7 linked regions of the Homo sapiens genome follow. The protein of the gene in region 6 purifies or fractionates together with the protein of the main gene of each other region. This does not show direct contact. Each region holds a gene or a part of one and is shown on either strand. Other genes may lie near its edges. The genes, in order: USP47, ZYG11B, HMGXB4, UTP4, PGM2L1, KIF22 and SFMBT1.

Region 1 (3,500 bases), on a different chromosome or scaffold from region 6:
CTTTTTTCCCTTCATTTGCTTTCGTTCTTCTACTACTTGTGATACTGTGAGAGTCAAGTCCATTAGCCAAAGGGATCTGAGCATTGTCTGCATTGCACAAAGTATCACTGCTATGACTGGAGCTAAGAATATCACTGTCCACTGAACTTGTACTCCTGTCATTATTCACATCTGAGTCTGATCGTTCTTCAGACTGAAAATTTTCTGGATCAGAAGTCTGAATATGCTGTTCAAGTTCTCTATTATCCACTGATGCTGAAGAGTCCCTCTCATTGAGAGGTGATTCGATGTTTTCAAAGTCACTTGTCTCAGTACTTTTGCTGCTGTCCCCATTATCTCCATCCTGCTGTTGCTGCAGTGACAAGCTTTTGAGTTTTTCAGTGCTTTCTTCTAGAATAGCTTCCACAGACTTTAGGCTTCCTACAGGTCCTTTGACTCTTTCACAGTCATCATCCACATTACCAGAATCGCCTCCAGCTTTCTGGTATGCTGTCCTTTTGGAATAAGATACTGGGGATTGTTCAGGTAGCAAAACAAATAATCTGATTGTATTTGCATGCCGATCCAGGAGTTTCCATAAATGAGAGTCTGCAAAGGCCATCTGGTAATCCAAAGTCTCGGAGCTTTCAACAAACACCTACATAGTAAGTCAGAGTTTTATTATATATTAATTTTAGTGACATGCTCATTCATCATCATCATTATATTGCATCAATACAACACAATACACAGTTATGTTATAACATGTGTGATGATATAGTTTCTGAAGGACTCTATTGTTTTGGAGACTGAATAAAATGAACATTAGGCTCAAATGTCTTTGTAACTAGCCATAAAACTACACTAAGATAGACGGTATGGACATACACATACACACAAACATCTTGTTTATTGGGTTGTCCAATTTCAGAAAGTTGTGTATTATATATCCTTCTCTTTAGGAAATTAATACTCTGGTTTTTCTTTAGATTGTAGAAATCTTTCACCTTTAGGAAATCCAAGTTTAGCCTGAACTACAGACACAGGAACATGTGTAAAGACACCTTGTGAATATAACACCAAAATCCAGATCATGGAAAAATTTAATGGGCAAATGACTTGGCTTTGTAACAAACTGCAAGGAAGCAAACAAAAAAGACACAGGAAAATTTACAGAAAAAAATTTTCTAAGACAATCAGAGAAATTTGAACACTGACTAGATATTGACTGATATTAAGGTATTTCTTAGGTATATAATGTAATTGTCATTTTTTTAAAAGAGTTCTCTTCATTTAGATATATATGTTCATATTATCTATAGATGAAATGATATGATCCTGAGGAAGTTTATCAAATAATCTGGGCGAAGTAGGTGGTTAAATTATAGATGAAACGAGATGATCACTGTGGAAGCTGAGAGATGGGGATGTGTGGGGGTTCACTCTATTTTCCCTATTTTCTCTACTTTTGTTTACGTTTGAAATTTTCCATAATAAATCTTTTTTTAAAATGAAATTCGTACTTGGCATAAATTTGGCAATTATAAATAGCATGTTGGGTTTTGCATAAAAGGATAACACTATCATTATCCTATTCAGTAAATGTTACAAATTGAAACCAGTACGCTAACCGTTTAAGGAAAAAGAAAAGTTTCCCTACTGCACTTCTTACCCTAAAGTAATGTACTGGAGGGGATTAGAAATTTTAATGTTTTACATATACACACACATATACACGTACATCCCCTCCCCCACCACACAAAAGTTTTAGAAGTGTAGGTGAATAAAAATTACATATTAGTAATAAAATACTAAAAAAGTTAAATGAGATAAAAGACTAGACTGTACTAAGATGAATGAGACTAGAGTGATAAAAACACATATGAAAAATGATAAATGATCAAACACATAATAATAGCAAGACAAAAGAAGAGGATTAACATGAACTTTCTCATTTCCAACAGAGAAAAATAAGTAGGCAAAAGGAATAATGTTGGGTGAACTCAAGATTATAATTTTCTCTATACCAGGTATGCCTCTGACCCTCACCATGAAGCACTGCTTTATGGGACAAGCTCAAGAATAAACACAATCCAGGGGACATAATCACTGTGGGAAGAAATGGTTATGAAGTCTTCACCAAAGAGGTAGGACTAATCTGGAGACTGAAAAAAAAAAAATGCAGGGAGAGGAGGAAGAACACTCCAGGTGGGAGTGCACATGAACAAAGGCAAAGAAGAGGAGAACCAGTAGGACTGATTCACAGGACAGAAGGGAGCCTGACCTGACCTGACTACAAAGGAAGGTAATTACTGGGTTGAGAATTTTAAATTAAGTTCCAGACAGATGTTGAACAGCTGTGGAGGCCAGGCTTATAATATTGAACCTAATTTCATTTACTACTACCAGCATAGAAAATAGTAATGAAAAAGTAAATGACATACCTTGTTACTTCTAAAAAATCCTTCAGCTTTCAGGGTTTTACTGGAGACACTGAGAAGACGCAAATCATTGTAGCAGCGTTCCAGCACTATTCTCATTGTTTCAGCAGGTAAATGGATGGCCTATAATGAAAGCAATTTAATAAAAAGTACTCTTTCAAAAATAATTCTGCTTGACTTAAAAATATGGGAAAGCAAGACACTGCTGAGTTCTTCTTAAAAGCAGCAGAGAGAAACATAATTTTAGTAGAGGTTTTAAAATTTTTGAATAATTGAAGGGAAAAATTACTTATAGCCATAAATTATACTGCAAATCAGGAGAACAAAGTACCATTTATAAATGTATGCTCTGAAACTATTTTAAAGGTAAGGATTTTTTCCTAGAATCTCTATTGCTCTCAAACTTGCCAAGTAAATGAGTGATCTGATTCCAAAGAAACTGCGTAACTGACTTTTTGACTGCTGATATCAAAATGTTGAACTTCTTGGCTTTTGACAGGCCTTTCTATAGTCTGTGAATAGTTTTTAATACTTTTATTAAAGCAATAAGCAATTTTCCTTTGTGTAAAATGAGAAGATTAGTAGGGAAAATTTTAAGTTTTTCTGAAAGTCCACATCTTTAATTTTTGGAGTCATTTTATAAATTGACATGAAAGCAGCAGATAAAAATACTTTACATTTAAAAAACACAATTTCTTTTCAATGCAACTAAGGTCATCAGTTATAAATACCTAATTCTTAAGCAGGCTGGTTAAAAATACTGTATTTGTTTACATGATGTTTTGTGACTGCCTTTATTCTCTATAGACATATTTTTCTCAGTAAGATTATTAACTTCTTGGGGAAGAAACTACTGTGTCTCTTTCTTTTGTATTATGTGTGAGTGCTTATTAAACTAATTTTTTTTACATTTGTCATTCATATTTTAAAAATGTAATATACAGTATATTATACCAACATAGTATGCATTTACAAGCAATTTAATCATAAAATATAATTTCACAAAATGATTTGTTTCTTGGTTATTACTTTAGCAAAATTGTTAGAAGTCATATACAGAAGTCAAAATATAGACTTTTT
Region 2 (3,500 bases), on a different chromosome or scaffold from region 6:
AAACCCCGTCTCTACTAAAAATACAAAAACTAGCTGGGCATGGTGGCTTTTTTGCACGCCTATAGTCCCAGCTACTCGGGAGGCTGAGGCACGAGAATCACTTGAACCCAGGAAGTGGAGGTTGCAGTGAGCTAAGATCGTGCCACTGCACTCCAGCCTGGACAACGGAGTGAGACTCTGGGGAAAAAAAAAATTAAACTTCCTACTTTTTTTCTTTTTGTAGAGACAGAGTTTCACTCTGTCGCCCAAGCTGGAGTGCAGTGGCACAATCATACCTCACTGCAGCCTCTTGGGCTTATGTGATCTTACCCCCTCAGCCTCTGGAGTAGCTGGAACTACAGGCTAAATTTCCTACTTTGTAAACATCAGTAGTGGCCAGATACTTCTGAGTCTTAAAAGCATAATAGGCCGGGCGCGGTGGCTCACGCCTGTAATCCCAGCACTTTGGGAGGCCGAGGTGGGTGGATCACAAGGTCAGGAGTTCAAGACCAGCCTGGCCCAAATGGTGAAACCCTGTCTCTACTAAATATACAAAAATTAGCTGGGTGTGGTGGCGGGCACCTGTAATCCCAGCTACTCAGGAGGCTGAGGCAGGAGAATCGCTTGAACCTGGGAGGTGGAGGTTGTGGTGAGCCAATATCATGCCACTGCACTCCAGCCTGGGTGACAGAGTAAGACTCCGTCTCAAAAAAAAAAAAAGCATAATAATTTATTACATCCCAAATATATAAAAATTTGAGTGCCTTTGCAGTTGGGATGGTTCCTAAAATTGCGTATAGAATTAAGGCACAGAATTGTGTGTAAGGTCCTGAATCTGGCTAAAATACAGTGGATGTATGTATTGGAATTATGAGGCATAAGTAGCCAGTATCTATAGTTAGAATCTACAAGGCCTCCTTTTTGCACCTGTAGACTAGAATATAACTGTTATTGGTGCCTTTGAGTGTTATCTCTCAGTGGCTAGAGGTGCTGTTTCAAGCACAATTTAGACTAGGGTTGAACCACTCATTGTTCAAATCATTGGTGGGCTCCAATGTAAAATATCACTACATCAGTCCACAAGCAACATTAAGGAAATCTAAAGGAAATGGAATTTGACTTTTTAGAGTATAATGATGTTCTAGGGCATAATGAGGAAAATTTTTAAAAAATAGATTATAATGATACATATTGGTATCATTAAGACAACAGATTTGAGCAAATACAATTAAGGTGTCTTATTTTTTGCATCAAGTAATTATTGCTGTGGTCTTTCTACTCCACAAAATAATTTTTTCTTTTTGCAGTTGAAAATTAACTGCATTATTAACTAATTAATAAAATAAATCAAGTGGTATAAGGGATTAGTTTACCCTCAAGCCGATGACTCCATGGCTACTGATATTAGTTAGTTTAGGATTTTTAAAAAGCATATCAGACCCCCAGTTTCAGGAATTGAGTATAAATATTGCTTCTTGTCACCCTGGGACAGTAATGCCTTATAGTGGCACTAGTCACCTTAAGTAGATTACACATGGTTGAGGTGAATAAAGCTGCATGGGAATTTGCTTTCGTGATATATTTCATTTGCAAACTTCTACATAATCAAGTTTTATGTTTAAAACCATCGGTTCTATATATCTAGCTTTAGGAAGTTGCCCTTACAGGTGGGACCTTTTGTGTTAATCTGTTTTCTCCCCAGTCATCTTATTTGGCTATGTTAAAAAAAAAAAAAAAAAAAAAGCGAGAGAGAGAGATGGTGTCTCACTGTGTTGCCCAGGCTGGTCTCGAACTCCTGGCCTCAAGTGACTTTCCCACCTCAGCTTCCCAAAGTGCTGGAATCACAGGCATGAGCCACAGTGCCTGGTCTTAGCTGTGTTTTTAATTATGCCATGCATCAACATAACACCGGGCCATCTTCCTATCCCTTCCTATCCCATATGTTTAATGAAAACATATTTTATGTGCTAAATTAGGTTAATTTACCAGAGATTTAGCTTAGTGTTTTTAAACTATAGAACAATACCCCTATAGAACAATGTACAGCTGCACCCAAGGTTAAAAAGAGGTAGCAGGGAAAACAAACTTAAACTCTTTGTATATGGTGAAACCCATCCCTCTCCTGCCCTCTAATGGTATGTTTACATTATTTCGTTATTATACAATGTAGTGGTATAAACAGTATTATTAAACTGAAGGCATAAGTTAAAGGAAGTATGTTACTTTGAGCTGATGTAGGCTCTTCCACTTTTATCTGTATTTTACTTATTTGGGGACTTTGTATTGCTAGGGCTTCAGAATACTAACTTTGACACAGCTCCCAGAGAGGTTTGCAAACTTTTGGTTTCCCTCTCAAATCCATGGTAGTAGTTTCAAATGAGTTTGTGGATAATGGATGTTTAGTCCTTATCATTTGCTGTGTTTTGACAGTTTTTAATTTGCAGTATTCACTCACGAACTGTTTTATTTTAGGAATAATGCAAAACCAACCTTCGTCCGGTGATGAGAATAGCCGTATGATAAGAGAATTTGCTCATCGTGCTTTAAATGATTAACTGTTTTACCTTATTTAGTATTTCATAGACTTTGCATGATATGGTACACTCCTAATTATGCATTCTTTGGTTTCCAAATCTTAATCTAAGATACTTTGTTAACTGACTGGTAGCCTAAGAAAGAGACTTTTCTTCCTGTTTTTCTCTCTCCCCATTTTTTGGGGTAAGTTTTGCAAAGATCAGTGCTGCTTCTCATGACTCTAAAGTAAAGCTCTTTTGGATAGCACAGCCTAACTTTACAGCTAGACAGAATGGCCATTAAGAATATTTCCAAAATCCAAGTTTATCAAAATTATTTTGTGGGAAATCATCAATCTATTTTATTAATGTTATGTGTTTAATTTTGGACTTATTTTGGGAAAAACTGTTCAAATTGGGTCCTTTTAAGCTTATTTTAAGCAGCCTAGAAGGAAGAAGCTACTTAGCTAATGAAAGCTGAGACACTTTATTAAAAGCAGGATCTTAAGAGCATTGTTTTTCCTTAAAAACTTTATACTCTCAGATAATCTGCAACAACAAAAATTAAGAAATCCCTGACTTTTGTAGAATTCCCACTGTCAAATTCTCACTGACTTATGAGTGTGAGAGAAGTTATCTTTTGTTTGAATTCTGATAGAACAGTTTAACTCCTTTCTAAGGATATAAAAAATTCATTGGAAAGTGTGTATATTTCAAAGACTCTCAATTATCTGGACTGAAGGCACTGTTCTCACTATGGCCAGATGAATGGGAGTATTCTGTACATGAATCATGCTGTATTTTAAATCAGGACATCACTTAAGTATTAATGTTGTGTGTACAGATTTTTGTTTTGGGATTTTTTTTGCCTAAATAAATGTTATAAATTTTATGTAAAGTGTGTCTTGTCTACTTTTATTCTAGACATTTGGCTTTAAAAGTTAATATTAATGCAAACTTCAAATTCCTTAGTGATCCACTTGTAATGATTGCTTTCTGAAAAAGGCT
Region 3 (3,500 bases), on a different chromosome or scaffold from region 6:
ACTTTGGCAGAGAAATGGATGCTCAAAGGAGGGCTAGATTTGCATGGGAAGGTTATTCTTCCTTACAGGAAGTTGAGATGGAGAAATATCCAAAAGGAGAGACCCAAAAGACAGCCAGAAATGCAGTTTTGAAGATCAAGATGTTGGTAGTAATATTCATAATTACTGATATTTTTTGAGTACTTAACCATGTATTAAGCACCATCCCAAGTATATTATATCTATTATCTCAATCCCATCTGCTGCAGATGCTGTTAGTATCTTACAGGCACAGCATAGTAAGCAACTTGCCTAGGTACAAAACAGTGAGTAGTGGAGCCAGGATCTGGACCCGGGCAGTCTTGAATCCGGAGCTCATTTTCTTAAGGACTGTGCTGTGTTGCTTCCCAATATGACATATTCTCACACTGCTTCTAGTTAAAGCAGATTATACAAGAACTCGGCAGCAGCAACAGTCTTTCTTATCTCTTTGAATCACAAATAGACAATATGAATTACATAAAATGTTAAAATTTGAACCAAATTCACTTTGAGAGTGAACAACTCAACCTAGAAAAATTGTATAATCAGCTATCAAAAGCTACATACATGCAGGGTTGTAGGATTCTCATAGTAATCACATCTGAGCTATATTTGTCGAGTTTATAACAGATATACTTTGCATACATAATCACAAATCTTACCAACAGCTCTCCAGAGTAGGTAAAGCATTTTTTACTGTTCCTGTTAAGGAGACAGAAGTTAAGGATGTGAACTCCCCAAGGTCACTCAGAAGGTAAGAAGATGGGCTAGGATTACGGAAAGGGAACATGGGAATGTGCTGTAAAAGTTTTCTTTCTAAACAACTTACAGAGTTATCAAAGTAAACTTTCCATTTCTGCTGTAAAGTTTCAAATTATAAGAGTAGAACTGCCTAGGATTTAAAGTACTGTGTGAGGAAGTCAGCCGGAACACAGCATCAGGAGTGTGACTCAAGCAACAACCTCCTCTCCTTTTCAGGGTATGGTGGCTGTGTCTGGCAGTTTGTCAGTGCTTCTGGATTCCATTATCTGTGCCCTTGGCCCCTTGGCATGTCTCACCACACAACTACCTGAATTGAATGGCTGTCCCAAACAGGTCTTGGTGAGTTTTCCCTGGATTTTTAGAGTCAGATCCATTGGGCGTCAGAGATGCCCTGCCTTAATGAGCACTGTCAGACACACATAAGGCTTTGTGACACACAGTGCTTCCTTCATCTGTTGGCCCATGGAACATGATGCTATATTATCAAATGCATGCTGTACTTTCACTGAAACTAGAAAACAAGCCATTTACCAAAACAGTACTTAAGAAAGCAGCATTCTAGCCCTTGAGGTACTACAATTCCTGTGTTTCCTGTTTGCTATTCTGCACCCAAAGACAGTACAGGAATTGTTTCCCTCTTTTTTACGAGGATTAATGGGAGAAGTCAGCAGAAAAGTTCCTAGCATAACAAACAGCAGGATGCCGTCTTCATTCTCACCTGTTTTTCTAACTCCATTTGATTTTTCTTATCTCTCTCCTTGAACAAAGAAACATCTCTCAGGAAACCAAGGTACAGTACTCTTCAGTTGAACATTTTTCTTTGTTTTGCAGTCAAACACATTAGACAACATTGCTTACATCATGCCGGGACTGTGACAGCAAAGAATCCTGGGACAGAAACCTTATCCTACACCATTGCTGGTTTGTGTATATATGACTGTTGCAGATTCCTTCAGTGGCCTCTGGCTGTAGGTTTTAAATTTTTATATCTATACATACATATATACATATATATATAATGTACAATATATACATAGACTGTAACTACTTTGCTTTTAATAATTTTATGAAATGGCAAAGGTTTAGCCAAGAGGAAATTTTGGCATGAATACAGGCTTGGGATTCTTTTTTCTCCTGTGGTGGATAAATCTGCCTTAAAAATCAATGTAACTTGGGGGCTGGGGGCTTGTTCTGGGTGCCAAGCGCATCTCTTTATGGACAGCTAAAATGTGATTATTTTCCAAGCTCAGTTGGACCTCCAGACCCATCACTGACCATTTGCCTTACCTGTCTTAGTCTGAAATGTAATAGGAAAGATAACGGGAAGATGCCAGTTGACTGAAAATTCAAAGCCTTTCAATTTGAAGTGACCTAGGTGGGAGGTGATAAAATTTGTTCCCTTTATAGTTATGGAAGTGGCTTAGGTGAATTGAGTAGAGGGTTCATTCCAATTCCTACTGTATAGGTGTCTGTGTCTCAAAATTTATTGTAATCATTGGTACCATTGGTGGCCTCAACAGAGGCCAAGGAGTTCTGTGAGCCCTGGCAGCAAAAAACACCTTGGGGGGTGAAGCTGTCAATGCCACCAGTTGGACCTCCATACATTCTGAGCTAACCCAGAATCTTTAGTCGGCAGAATTAAGTGCTGGTGTCTTTCACTGGCAGCATGAAGTTAGCCACCAAGTCCTCACAAGCCGTGCTGCTTAGTTGCTCGGTGGTTATGGATAAACTTTGCCCAGCATGATTTTTGGGTTCATCTTATCAGTTCCCCTGGTGGGCAGATACACAGTGTTCTGCATTCCACATGTAAGTGAATTGCAAAAACAAAACAAAACTCACTCTCTTGTAGGTTTATTTATGTGTGTGTGAATGTGTATTTTAATTATGTGTATTTAACTCTTTAAAATCTCTTAGATTTTAATTTATCCTGTAAATTTCTGTATATATAATTTAATAACAGAAGCCTCCACCAGCAACAGCATGTGGAAGATACAGATTTGTCATTTCTCCCTTCCGCCCTCCCTTCTTTCCTTCCTTCCTTCCCTGTTTCCTTCCCTCTTTCCTTCCTTCCTCCTGGTCTGTTCCAAAAACTCTGAATCATCTACATTTTAAGGTATTTTACCTCAAAAATGAATCATTGTGTTAGGATTCTAATTCTTTATAAAGAACTTCATGGGCTTCAATAATGTCTAGAAAGTAAAATAAAGAGGAATGTTACCATCCCCAGCTGCCCTTATTTCCAGAGAACCAGACGTTTGTTTCCCAGTTGGAAAGAAGACAGTTGAGCACTTCAGGATGGTTTTTAAATTTGGTATGAGATTCTCTGCCAACACCAAGCTCTGAGTTAACTGTGCTTTCTTCTCCTGGCCCTGACAGAGCACTACAGCATCAAAGTAAATCTTTGGGGACAGTGTAGCCCATCTGCATCCTATTTAATTTCTTCCCTTCTCCCCACCAGTGTTGTCACAGGGCTATGTTGCTTAAAGGTAGTCTGGCTGCTGAATCCCTTTCTCAGCTCAGAGCAGTTTTAAGATTTAATTGGGAATACAGAGAAACAGGATTGTTTGAGAACCAAAATCAAGAGGAACAGAAATCTTAACTTGATTTCATGTGTTAGAACATTGTACCATGCCTCTTCTGTATCTGTGGAAGTTTCCTGTTTGACACAGGGTATCTAGGAGGGGCGGGGAAGACATGGATAGTATAGGAAGACATTA
Region 4 (3,500 bases), about 39 Mb from region 6:
GGGTTTCACCACGTTGGCCAGGCTGTCCTGAACTCCTGACCTCAGGTGATCCACCCCCTCAGCCTCCCAAAGTGCTGGGATCACAGGCATGAGACACTGCGCCCGGCCCACACCCAGCCTTTATTTCCATTTTGAAATTTTGAGGTATGTTCTTAGAGGGATAGGGTAATGCCCTACAGGCAATAAAATTAAAGCTTTTCTGTTTAGTGGTTTCACGTGCGACTTAGTTATTTCCTTGATAGAGAAGTGAATATTTAGTAAAGAGATGAAAGGGGGATGTATAGATTACTGGAGAGAAACCAGTGTTCTGTGCCGAGTCAGTTGGCTTACTTAGAGACAGGAAGCATTAATGTACCTTAAGCCTAGCTGTGATTGTTTCTGATGGGCTGTAGGTCTCCCTTCTCTCACTGGCTTTTATTATTGGTTCACCCAAAGGTTTCCAAAATGCCAGCATTCCTTCGCTCTGCCCTTCAGATTTTGTTTTCTGAAGATTCAACAAAGCTCTTTGTAGCATCAAATCAAGGAGCTCTGCATATTGTTCAGCTGTCAGGAGGAAGCTTCAAGCACCTGCATGCTTTCCAGCCTCAGTCAGGTGGGAATCTGGTAACTGGCCATGGGGAGACTTGTCGTGTCTAAGATGTAACTTTTTTGCTTTTAAGCCTCCATGTCGGGGGTTCCCTCATGTTCCTCCTACCCTGCAGATACACTCACTCACATGTTTGCTGTTTCAAGTAGGAGGAGATAGCTGGCAGATGAAGACTCTCGATGAGATCTGCAATGTTCTTCACACCTACTCTTTTCTCACTGGGTTTTTGATTCCTTATTTGGGGCCAGAGAAATTTCATCATCCTTAGTTTGTTAGCAGAACAAGAAGAAAGTTAAAGTCATTTGCAATCCTGACACCCAGAAATAGCTACCATTAATATTTTGGTATTTTCTAATATGTATTTGTATATAAGTATTTTGTGGGCATGTTGCCTTTTTTGGTTGTTTGTTCATAAAAAGGTACAATCATAGATGGCTGCCACCTCGACCTCTTGGGCTCAAGTTATCTTCCCATCTCAGCATCCTGAGTAGCTGGGACTATAGACACTCACCACTATGCCCAGCTAATTTTTTCATTTTTTTTGTAGAGACGGGGTCTCATTATGTTGACAAAGTTGGTCTTGAACTCCTGGGGTCAAGTGATCCTCCCATCCTGCCCTCCCAGCTGAGATTATAGGCATGAGCCACTGTGCCTGGCCCAAAAGTATTCTTATACATACAGTTTAATTACCTGTGTTCATATAATGTTCCTGAGAATTTTTCTGTTTTCATTGAGAATGTGAGTATTAATGAATGAGTGTGGCTATGTAGCTAGCTATGGCTAACTGTTAAGGACTTGGACTCAGTTTCCAGATTAAGCTGGTAGTTGTTTTGATACTTCCTATGGGCCTTTCACCTCTCCCTTGTCCTGGATTTTAGCTGCTGCTTCACTGTCATTTACACTCCCATCAGCCTGGAAAGTCAACTCTTTTTTTTTTTTTTTTTTTTTTTTTTTTTTGAGATGGCCTCACTCTGTTGCCGAGGCTGGAGTGCAGTGGTGCGATCATGGCTCACTGCAGCCTCACCCTCCCCAGGCTCAGAAAATCCTTCCACCTCAGCCTCCCAAGTACACAGGAGCATACCACCACACCCAGCTAAGTTTTGTATTTTTGTAGAGACAGGGTTTCACCATGTTGCCCATCCTGGTCTTAAACTCCTGGGCTGAAGCAATCCTCCTGCCTCAGCCTCCCAAAGTGCTAGGATTACAGGTGTGAGTCACCATGCCTAGTGAAAGTCAACTCTTTTATCTTCAACTCTCACTGTTCATAAGCTGATCCAGAAGCCTACAGGAGAAGAAACCCACAAGTTAGGGGTCAGATAAATCAAACTATTTATTATCTATATATGTTTTTATTACAAAACTTAGGCTATTTATCTTATATCTAGCTCTCCTTGAGATTCGACTCTACATTATGTATATGACTTTATTTTTTCCACTTCTCTCATCTCACTTCCCCTTGTAGTCAAAATGGTTTCTTCACAGCTCTCAAACCTGCATATTCTACTCCTCGTCACTTAGCTTGCACTGTTCCCCATCCTTTTTTCCTCATCCCCACCCATCCTTTGGCAGCTGGGTTATGCTTGTTATAAAGCCATGTTATCGTTTGGGGGCGTTACATGCAGCACGCATTTTGGCATAGAGCATCACTGTCCAATTTTTATCCCACACTAGTTGTCGTGTTGCCAGATTGGTTTAAAGTCTCTAGATGACAAAGATGGCTCAGACGTGCCCATCCTCCCTTAGTGCTAAATACACAGCAGGCATCCAATAAATTAAAGATATGCTTCAAGTCTATTGAACTTGCTGTTTGTCCGTAACTTTTTTTTTTATTATTAATTTATTTATTTTTGAGATAGAATTTCAAAAGACAGAGTTTCTTGTGCCCAGGCTGGAGTGCATTGGTGCCATCTCGGCTCACTGCAACCTTTGCCTCCCAGGTTCAAGTGATTCTCCTGCCTCAGCCTCCCTAGTAGCTGGGATTACAGGCACCCACAACCACGCCCAGCTATTTTTTTTTTGTACTCTTAGTAGAGATGGGGTTTCACCATCTTGGCCAGGCTGGTCTTGAACTCCTGACCTCAGGTAATCCACCTACCTCTGCCTCCCAAAGTGCTGGGATTACAGGTGTGAGCTACCACGCCTGGCCTGTCCATAATTTTGGCTTAAAAAAAATTTAGGGGCCGGGCACAGTGGCTCACACCTCCCAGCACTTTTGGAGGCCGAGGTGGGCAGATCATAAGGTCAAGAGATCGAGACCATGCTGACCAAAATGGTGAAACCCCATCTCTACTAAATATACAAAAATTAGCTGGGTGTGGTGGTGCACGCCTGTAGTCCCAGCTACTTGGGAGGCTGAGGCAGGAGAATGGCTTGAACCCGAGAGGCAGAGGTTGCAGTGAGCCGAGATTGCACCACTGCACTCCAGCCTGACAACAGAGTGAGACTCCGTCTAAAAAAAGAAAAAAGAAAGAGGCCAGGCACGGTGGCTCACGCCTGTAATCCCAGCACTTTGGGAGGCCAAGGTGGGCGGATCATCTGAGGTCAGGAGTTCAAGACCAGCCCAGCCAACATGGTGAAACCCCATCTCTACTAAAAATACAAAAATTAGCCAGGCATGGTGGTGGGTGCCTGTAATCCCAGCTAGTCAGGAGGCTGAGGCGGGTGAATCACTTGAATTTGGGAGTTGGAGGTTGGAGTGAGCGGATCCGCCACTGCACTCCAGCCCGAGTGACAGAGCTAGACTCCATCTCAAAAAAAAAAAAACAAAAAACAGAAAAAAAACCATTTGGTAGGAAAGGAGTTTGAAACAATTAAAGTATATATTTTAGTGGCAGATGCTGCCGTCATTCTCTATTCCTGTAGTAAGCAGTGTCTTAGGCCTGAGGAAGTAATAACTTCTGTTTTATCTCTCTGG
Region 5 (2,618 bases), on a different chromosome or scaffold from region 6:
TTTGGTTATTTTGTTAATGTTGTCATTATATTTAAGACTTATTGTAGGAAGTAATTTTAAATCTATTTCATAACCTGTTTTGATCTGTCTGCATACTGCTATATGTTAATTTATTACGGCCTTTTACAATTCACTTGTCATCTGAGATTGTTCTAGAAACTGATGAGGAAAGAGTCGTACTAACCAAAATGAATGGGCAATTGACATAACATTCTATTTCAGGTTTCCTTGTACTTGGGGAGCCAAAGCACAAGATCTAAGGAAATCTTATTCACATTTGTCCCTCAGAGCATCTTACCCTAAGCCATAGAGGTATAAATAGTAAGATGAGAATTGCTCATTGTCTGACTCCTTGCACAGCATGAATTTAATTCTAGTTGGAAACAAAGTTAGTGTTGACTACTGGTTACCTTAAAGTATTCACCATACTATATATTTATTAGACCATCTTTCCTCTTTGTTTATTCAAGACTATGTACTTATAAAAGAGAACCTATAAGAATGTGTAGAGTGACCAAATAGGGACAAAGTGACATACCTAGAGTTTGCTGCTCAAATTTTTCCACTAGCGTAACCCTAAAGCAGAGGGGCATGATGAAGGGGGAAGGGGTTCTGAGAGCAAAATCAGAATCAGCCTACCACTGACATGAAGTGTGTTCTGTCTTTAAAATGTAAGTGAATTTTGCATTCTTTATAATAAAACTTTTAATATAAAAATGATATGTTTAATCTTTACTGAAACTTATGCCACCACAAAGGAGCACCATGTTCATCACGTGGCTGCTCAGTTTTCTCCCCCAGTGCCCTCACCCCCAGTGGAGGCAAGTCCTTGAGCTACACACACTGGCTGTAGTGCAAGATATATAAACATAGGCCGGGCTCGGTGGCTCATGCCTGTAATCCTAGCACTTTGGGAGGCCGAAGCAGGTGGATCATCTGAGGTCGGGAGATTGAGACTAGCCTGACCGACATGGAGAAACCCTGTGTCCACTAAAAATACAAAATTAGCCGGGTGTGGTGGCACATGCCTGTAATCCCAGCTACTCGGGAGGCTGAGGCAGGAGAATCACTTGAACCCAGGAGGTGGAGGTTGTGGTGAGCCAAGATCGCGCCGTTGCACTCCAGCCTGGGCAACAAGAGTGAAACTCCATCTCAAAAAAAAAAAAAAAAGATATATAAACATAGAACATATCCAGACTATTTCCTGCCCTTGGAATCTGACCTTCAGAAGGATTAATGCCAAACTAAACTGACCTGAAACAGTTTTGTTACTATTGGCATTCCTTGACTAAAAAGGACCACCTGATGCTCAGTCCCGAGAGTAGGAATCGTGGTTTATTATTTTTCATATCCATACCACCTAGTTCAGTACCTGTTATAGAGTGTTTAATTGCTGATACTAGGAATTAAGGGATTTTTTAAAAGTAGCAAATAGTTTAAGGAACAATCAAAAAATGAATTTTCTAATTCAGTTTTTTCAATGAAGTCCCATCACTGAACTTTATAATGTAATGTTTATTAAGCAGACATCCCCTTAAATACTCAGTTTCTTTGGAGAGAGCAAAGCATATCTCTCTGTGGAAATTATATATAATGCCTGGTATTTTACACTCAAAGCAAGGTGTTGGCCAGGAAGGTAAAGAAATGGTGTCTATGTAGACTTAATATCACTAGTCTAAGTGTCATTTTGAGCCTAGTAGCACTACCTTCCAAGTGAGTCACAACAAATTTGATCCTATTTGGTATGTTTTTGTCCACTGTTATGATTCATCATGTATCTTACAAGAGCCACTCAAGCAAGACTCTGCTTCTATGTATGGTGAGGCCTTGTTGTTCTAGGCTAGAATAAACTCTTTGTATGCCTCATTGAATATGCCAGGTAAAATTTATGCAGTCAAGAATGAATTATTTTTCTGACTAAAGTGTGTAGCAGTAGTTCAAAATTGTGCCCTTGTTTTAACAGTTTCTGTCAACATCTTCTCATTTTTCCCTACAAAAACACCAGGGTGTATTATAAGTACTGCCTGTGAGAATTTGCACTTTATGTATTTGTGTGTGGATTTCTTGTGGTTTTAGCCAAATGAAGTGTTATCAGTAATAAACAGGTCTCTTCATAGGCATGAGTTTCTGTGTAATTTTTATTTGAGATACTGTGTAGTTCATAAAGCTTGCTATCTAAACAGGAAATACTCTTGAAATACACACATCACATACCCTAGAATCCACTTTGCATCTAAATGAATATTCTGGCTTAGTACTCAGGAAATATTTCTTGATTGGTTTATCAGAAGTCCCAGATGTGAGAACTAACATTAACATTCTTATTTTTCTTTTCTTTTTCTCTCCTTAAGCTGATCTAATTTGTTTGCCCATGTTAGCGCCAGCTACTATAATAAGACAAAAGTTTAAAGTTTGGAAATCTCTCACGGTAATAACCGTAGATCTATGCTTCAATACTGATGAAGGACTGAGTTTCCAAGGGTTCTTATGAATCTGTGGTCCTGGTCTCTGTTGCCTGCCTTTCCCAGATCAGGCTCAAAGGGAAGATGACTGAAAGGAATGTTCTACGAGGTCCTTTTGTCAGCTTCTAAATGGAATATTCTGAGAACCATGCCGAC
Region 6 (2,567 bases):
GCAAGACTGCATCTCAATAAATAAATAAGTAAATAAATAAATTCCCCCCAAATTCTACTCCATTGAATCACTAAAGTCTAAGATTAATCTCTCCTCAGTGCTGCTGCCTTGGGGACCTAAGGAGGCCTCCTCCTGGGGATCCTTTCCATTTTCCAACCCCTTTAGCCTTCAGCAAAACTTCTCACTTTGGGACAGCTGTTTCAAGGATGAGCATTTTTGCTTCTGGTTCAAGGAGTGATCTGGATCAGATCTTTCAGATCCATGAGAGCAAAGCAAAGGAGACTTGGAAGAGCTGTCCTGCTGAGACCATCTGGTCTGTGTGTCAGTGCCCAGCTTCTCCATGACTCTCCGGGGAGCCAGCTGCTGTCCTAACTGCGTCTACCCTCAATCCAGATAAAGCCTCTAAACTAAGTCCTTTGTGTCACCTCCTGCCCCAACTCCAATCACCCCACCTCATGGCCCAGTATGTACTAATCCTCAGGTCATCTCTGTTCAGGGGTCTTGCTTTCTGTGTCTGGCCACTTAGCCCTTGCGCTATTCCCTCCACCCCCCAGGAGCCAGTTGCAGTTTTAACTTTGCCCTGTTTCTACCCCTAGCCCAAATAAAGCCTGTGAACTACTAAACAGAGGTGACCTGAGGTGGCCAAGGGTTAGTGCCCACTCTGTCCCAGGGGGCTACTGTAGTTAAGGAAGATGCCACACACAAGAAGATGCTTGTGCACTCATGACCCCATCTCTCAGTCTTGTCTTTCCCAAACCATCTGTCAGCACTCCCCACTGCTGTGTGCACCCAGAAATGTGCACAGGTAAGCTGTCAGACAGGCACTCTGAGTAAGGGGAAGCTCAGAGTTGGGCACATCAAACCCAGCAGACCCAGAGCTTGGGGGCCTCACAGGAGAGCAAGTCAGATGGGAACATCAGTATATGATACCAGGTGGAGAATTCAGAATCAGGAAGGAGTAGCTGCTGCTGCTGTGAGAGTCAGGAAGGAAGAGATGACTTCTAGTGTTTGCCCACGTATGTTCTGATCCTGTTTTTCCAAGGCACTAGCATGGAAAGCACAGGAGTGTCCCTGTCCTCCAGGAGCCAGTTCACAGCATAGGAAGGGAGATGCATTGTTAAGCTTGGCGTCATGGGAAAGGTGGCATCAAACTGACCTGGAAAGATTATTGATACAGATGTGAGGAGGTGTGGGGCAAGATTCCAGGCAAAATAAATGAATGTTAGACGTTGCTGACTGGGCGCAGTGGCTCACACCTGTAATCCCAGCACTTTGGGAGGCCAAGGTGGGTGGATCACTTGAGCCCAGGAGTTCAAGACCAGCCTGGGCAACATAGTAAGACCCCATCTCTACAAAAAATAAAAAAATTAGCTGGGCATGGTGGCATGCACCTGTGGACCCAGCTACTCAGGAGGCTGAGACAGGGGGATTGCTTAAGCCTCAGGAGGCCAAGGCTATAGTGAGCTGTGATCTCAACACTGCACTCCAGCCTGGGTGACAGAGCAAGACCCTGTCTCAAAAAAAAAAAAAAAAAAAAAAAAAGAATGTTAAGCCTTACCGTGCTCAGAGTCAGTCAGGACTGCTTGAACAGGCCTTCCCAGCTGCCCACAGCAGGGAAGCTTGGCAGCTGAGGTCTTCGGTGGATTTCAAAGCCCTGCTAAAGATGGCATCCTCTGTGATGTTTTCCGCAACTGCTCCTCCAAATGGATAGGCACTGTCCTGGCTGTCACCTTATTATGGTCTCTTGATTTCCTCAGTAGACAGTGCCTCCAGGGCAGGGCAGTGTCTTAGGTCTCTCATACCTGGCACTCAAGTGTTCGCCTGATTTCCTGGCATCCCCGAGCAGTCACTTCACCTGATGAAGACACTGCACCCAGAGAAACTGGATGCCTAGCAAGTTAACATTAGGTTCTGGAGCTACAGGATATACCAAGTTAAGGTGTGGTGAGGGGAGTCCTGCTGCTGTAGGTGGTGATGAGGGAGGAGGTAGGTGGGGAGCAACTTCTTTTTCTGCTCAGCCCCCTACAGAAGCTAAGCAGCATGGACCCGGCCATGCTGGAGCGCCTCCTCAGCTTGGACCGTCTGCTTGCCTCCCAGGGGAGCCAGGGGGCCCCTCTGTTGAGTACCCCAAAGCGAGAGCGGATGGTGCTAATGAAGACAGTGGAAGAGAAGGACCTAGAGATTGAGGTACGTGTTTTAGGGATGTGGGAGCTGGATTCCTATTGGCCTTGAGAAGCAATCCTTGGATCTTCAGACAGGGAAGGACACTCAGGCTGGACTAGAGTCCAGTTTTCTCCCAATACCGGAAGTTCTCCAGCTTCTGCTTGAATGTCCTTAACATGGCTGAACTTTGACAGACAATTGAGACCAGATGTGAGGGTGAGAAGAAAAAGTTCAAAGTAAAAGCAACAAATGTTAAACATTACATTTCCTAAAGCCCAGCTCAATTAATTGAGGACTGTGCTTGAAAAGCCTTTCCCTTCAATATTTGCAGAGGCTTGTTCCACCTCTGGGTAGCCCCCTAATCACAGAAAGCCCTTAATTATGTTAGGCTCCACCTGTCTCCT
Region 7 (3,500 bases), on a different chromosome or scaffold from region 6:
TTAAGTACATTGACATTGTTGTGTAACCATTACCACCATCCATCTCTAGAACTTTTTTAATCTTCCCAGACTGGAACTCTGTACCCATGAAACAGGGATTCCCCAACTCCCCTCCTCCCACCCTAGACAACCACTGTTCTACTTTCTGTCTTTATGATTTTGACTATTCTAGGTACTTCATCTAAGTGGAATCATACAGTATTTATCCTTTTGTGATTGCCTTAATTCACTTAACATAATGTCTTTAAGGTTCATCCATGTTGTAGCATGTGTCAGAATTTTTTTTGAGGAAGTAAATTATTTGAAAGACTTCCACAGCAGGTAAAGTGGAGGTCAGGTCACAGAATACTGTTTGCTAGGATTTGTTTACCTCCCTTGGAAGAACTCCGTATGTGCCCAGCAGAGCCTAGAGAACCAGGTACCTTGTCCTTAGATACAGTTTGGGCACACTTGCTTATTCGAACAAAAGAAACAGAGCAGATTGTGACAGCAGGGTGGAAGACAAGGAGAACATAAAAGCAAAGGTTGCAGGAGTCCAGGGTAACATTGAGTAAGGAGTAAGGCCTTTTGGGTCTCAGGATGCCATCTTACTGTGTGATCACTGACATTCGTGGTGTGGGCCTGTGTCAAAGCATGTCGTCCAGAACAGTTAACCAAAAAAATATGTGTGTTCAGAATTGTAAATAAGCCTTCACCTATCTGAAAGGCATATTCAGTGACTCAATCCCCAGCTGTTCTGGTTAGTTGAGGTTTTGCCATATTTCACTCTTGTTTCTGTATTGATAGAAAACTAGTACGTGTTTAAAAAGGCTTAATGACTTACATAATAATGATACCACCTAATTAATGCTTTGTATTTTAGATTTGCTGTATCACTTTAATTCTGTATTTGTGAAATATAGATGTCCAATCCTGGTTGGAGAGAAAGCAGGTTTGACAGTTAAGGGTAATAGAGAGTTGAGCAGGTATGTACTTTCAGAATGGTTAAAGAGTTATATTTTCCTCCATTATTATTTTTAATGGCTGTATTAATGTAGTAAATGTGGGATGAGTTTCCTAATACTGTTTGTTACCGGGGGGAGGCCATCTCTTAATTACTGTCCTTTCTTCATGGCAAGGATGTTTTTGACTTTCTGGAAACCATTGAAGAATAGACAGTAAATGTCATGAAGCCTGATTTTTATTGTGCGTTGTGTTACTATTCAATTCTTAAGAATGGTTAGTTGTTTCCTAGAGTTAGTAAGGCTTTTCTGAGAAAGTATCAGTTTCTTTGGCATGATGTTGTCTAATAGAGCATAGAGCCACGGTAGTAAAAGTCAATGGTTAGGGGAGGAGATACAGGGTAGGAGACAGTTGTCTAAACTGGAGTGCCTGGGCTCAAGCACTTCTCCTGCCTCAGCCTCCTGAGTAGCTAGGACTACAGGTGCATGCCCCAGCACCTGGCTAATTTTTTAAAACATTTTTTTTTTGAGACAAAGTTTTGCTCTTGTTGCCCAGGCTGGAGTGCAGCGGTGCAATCTTGGCCACCTCCGCCTCCTGGTTTCAAGTGATTCTACTACCTCAGCCTCCCGAGTAGCTGGGATTACAGGTGCCTGCCACCATGCCTGGCTAATTTTTTGTATTTTTTGGTAGAGACAGGGTTTCATCATGTTGGCCAGGCTGGTCTTGAACCCCTGACCTCAGGCGATCCATCCGCCTTGGCCTCCTAAAGTGCTGAGATTACAGGTGTGAGCCACTGCGCCGGGCCTTTAAAACATTTTTTGTAGAGATGGGGTCTCTCAGTGTTGTCCAACCTGGTCTCAAAACTTCTGGCCTCAAGTGATTCTCTAGCCTCAGCTTCCCAAAGTGCTGGGATTACAGGCATGAGCCACTATGCCCAGCCTGGTTTTCATTTTTATCATTGAGCAAAATGAGCAGGGTTGGGTGGTCTAGCTAAAGATAGAAATTTGAGAAACTTCGGGTGTATTATTGTTGTTATAGGTGTTTATGATGGTATTAAAACATCTGAATCCCTTGATCTCTTAATGTAATTAATATTAATTTAATTTTATTTCTCTTTTAATGTTGGCTTTCCAGTCCTCAATCAAGTTATAGTTGCACTTAAAAATACGTAGTTTTCTTTATCGTTAATATGAATAACACCATATGCAAATTGGGAAACAGGCTTAGATCTTCTCCTAGGCATTATCTGTACCCAGTTTTCCTGTAAGTATTCAATTGGGCTCCTCAATCAACAGAGAAGAGCTTCAAATGACTTTCTTTGTTGTCAGGCTCCATTCTCAGGAATGGCTATGACAAGGGAAGCAGAGGGCTGGGTGGTCTCTTCTGGCCTCCCCTTCTAGGGAGAGTCTTCCTTTTCTGCAGCAAGTGCTTGAGGAGGGCTGCATGATCCCGCAGCCAGTCAGGGCGGTAAGACACAACTGCCCTCACCCTAGCTCCTCTCCTAGCCATTGACTTTTACTCCTGTTTTTGGCTTTCTATTGACTTTGTCTGACAGGAGTGCTTTCCGGAATAGTGTGCTGGTGAAATGTTGGGTTCTCTACAGCCTCCTTCAGAGGATTCCCTGTTCTCCCTATGCCTCGTCTTTTATCTCATTGTGACCTTCATTTTCTCCCAGAGTCCCAGCCCCATCAGGCCTGGACCCACTGTCTAATCTTTGAGCTGCTCCCTAGCCAATCCACTTTGTTCTTTCCCTCTTTCCCTTCTGTGGCCCCGTAAGCCACCTGCAGCCTTCCAGCCAGTGCCTCTCTCTGCTCCTGGATATAGACTACCTTGGAGGAGAATTCAGGTTCTCCAGAAAGACCTGTCTTGAGGCAGACCTTTCTGTCTTTGCCTTCTGTAACCTTTTAAGACCTTCCCTTCTTTCTATTTACATCTCTCTCAATGAAGTTGTCCACATTTAGAGTTTGTCTAGCTCCTGTGCTCCTCTAAGACCCCTACATCCCTGCCCGTTGGGCTTCCAAGTTGGGTGCCACACTGGCATCTCAGAATCCACAGGTCCAAAATAGAATTTCTCCTTCTACCCCAAAGACGCCAGTCCTCTAGTGGGCCTGTTTGCCCAGGTCTCTTTCTTTACATTGCTCCTCAGCGATGGTGTTTGTTTTGTCCACTGGGAGCTTTCCTGTGGGACTTGAGGTCTTATTCTTCAATTGCCAGCCTTGGAGTTAGAACGTACAGTTCTGACTCCTTGGTTTTCAAGTGTTTTTAAAGTTGTGGAACCCTTTGTTCAAATGAAATCTTTCTAGGAAGCCCGATAAGTAAAATAAAATGAGAGTCCTCCTAGTGGAGTAGGGGTGAAGGGCCAGCATCCTGTCCCACGGCAGGATAGCTGGACATTCTCTGCTTCCCTCTCCTCCCAGGCAGGACTGGCGGCTGGCTCTTGGGGCAGCCTTCCCAGTGGATTCTGCATAAATGGAGCTCCTCAGAGTTGCTGTCAGCACTGCTTTGAGGGCATGCTCTATGTTTTAAACCATTTTATCTATTCTGTACCCCACTTCCTT

Evidence for each region.
Region 1: the proteins of KIF22 (region 6) and USP47 purify together in Homo sapiens (affinity purification with mass spectrometry; 2 studies listed by BioGRID and IntAct, with this or other methods). This does not show direct contact.
Region 2: the proteins of KIF22 (region 6) and ZYG11B purify together in Homo sapiens (affinity purification with mass spectrometry; one large-scale study listed by BioGRID and IntAct). This does not show direct contact.
Region 3: the proteins of KIF22 (region 6) and HMGXB4 purify together in Homo sapiens (affinity purification with mass spectrometry; one large-scale study listed by BioGRID and IntAct). This does not show direct contact.
Region 4: the proteins of KIF22 (region 6) and UTP4 purify together in Homo sapiens (affinity purification with mass spectrometry; one large-scale study listed by BioGRID and IntAct). This does not show direct contact.
Region 5: the proteins of KIF22 (region 6) and PGM2L1 purify together in Homo sapiens (affinity purification with mass spectrometry; one large-scale study listed by BioGRID and IntAct). This does not show direct contact.
Region 7: the proteins of KIF22 (region 6) and SFMBT1 purify together in Homo sapiens (affinity purification with mass spectrometry; one large-scale study listed by BioGRID and IntAct). This does not show direct contact.

What each region holds. Positions count from the first base shown.
Region 1 is NC_000011.10:11,939,472-11,942,971, reverse strand, and holds part of USP47 (ubiquitin carboxyl-terminal hydrolase 47), read right to left. Parts: intron 2,544-3,500; coding exon 2,424-2,543; intron 638-2,423; coding exon 1-637. UniProt on the Homo sapiens protein: Ubiquitin-specific protease that specifically deubiquitinates monoubiquitinated DNA polymerase beta (POLB), stabilizing POLB thereby playing a role in base-excision repair (BER). Acts as a regulator of cell growth and genome integrity.
Region 2 is NC_000001.11:52,823,953-52,827,452, forward strand, and holds the end of ZYG11B (protein zyg-11 homolog B), read left to right. Parts: 3' UTR 1-3,384; downstream 3,385-3,500. UniProt on the Homo sapiens protein: Serves as substrate adapter subunit in the E3 ubiquitin ligase complex ZYG11B-CUL2-Elongin BC. Acts to target substrates bearing N-terminal degrons for proteasomal degradation with the first four residues of substrates being the key recognition elements.
Region 3 is NC_000022.11:35,291,993-35,295,492, forward strand, and holds part of HMGXB4 (HMG domain-containing protein 4), read left to right. Parts: intron 1-999; coding exon 1,000-1,122; intron 1,123-1,614; coding exon 1,615-1,659; 3' UTR 1,660-3,500. UniProt on the Homo sapiens protein: Negatively regulates Wnt/beta-catenin signaling during development.
Region 4 is NC_000016.10:69,156,649-69,160,148, forward strand, and holds part of UTP4 (U3 small nucleolar RNA-associated protein 4 homolog), read left to right. Parts: intron 1-435; coding exon 436-592; intron 593-3,500. UniProt on the Homo sapiens protein: Ribosome biogenesis factor. Involved in nucleolar processing of pre-18S ribosomal RNA. Part of the small subunit (SSU) processome, first precursor of the small eukaryotic ribosomal subunit.
Region 5 is NC_000011.10:74,329,816-74,332,433, reverse strand, and holds the end of PGM2L1 (glucose 1,6-bisphosphate synthase), read left to right. Parts: 3' UTR 1-2,118; downstream 2,119-2,618. UniProt on the Homo sapiens protein: Glucose 1,6-bisphosphate synthase using 1,3-bisphosphoglycerate as a phosphate donor and a series of 1-phosphate sugars, including glucose 1-phosphate, mannose 1-phosphate, ribose 1-phosphate and deoxyribose 1-phosphate, as acceptors.
Region 6 is NC_000016.10:29,800,751-29,803,317, forward strand, and holds part of KIF22 (kinesin-like protein KIF22), read left to right. Parts: exon of another isoform or gene 1-52; intron 53-2,018; coding exon 2,019-2,187; intron 2,188-2,567. UniProt on the Homo sapiens protein: Kinesin family member that is involved in spindle formation and the movements of chromosomes during mitosis and meiosis. Binds to microtubules and to DNA. Plays a role in congression of laterally attached chromosomes in NDC80-depleted cells.
Region 7 is NC_000003.12:53,036,074-53,039,573, reverse strand, and holds part of SFMBT1 (scm-like with four MBT domains protein 1), read left to right. Parts: intron 1-3,500. UniProt on the Homo sapiens protein: Histone-binding protein, which is part of various corepressor complexes. Mediates the recruitment of corepressor complexes to target genes, followed by chromatin compaction and repression of transcription.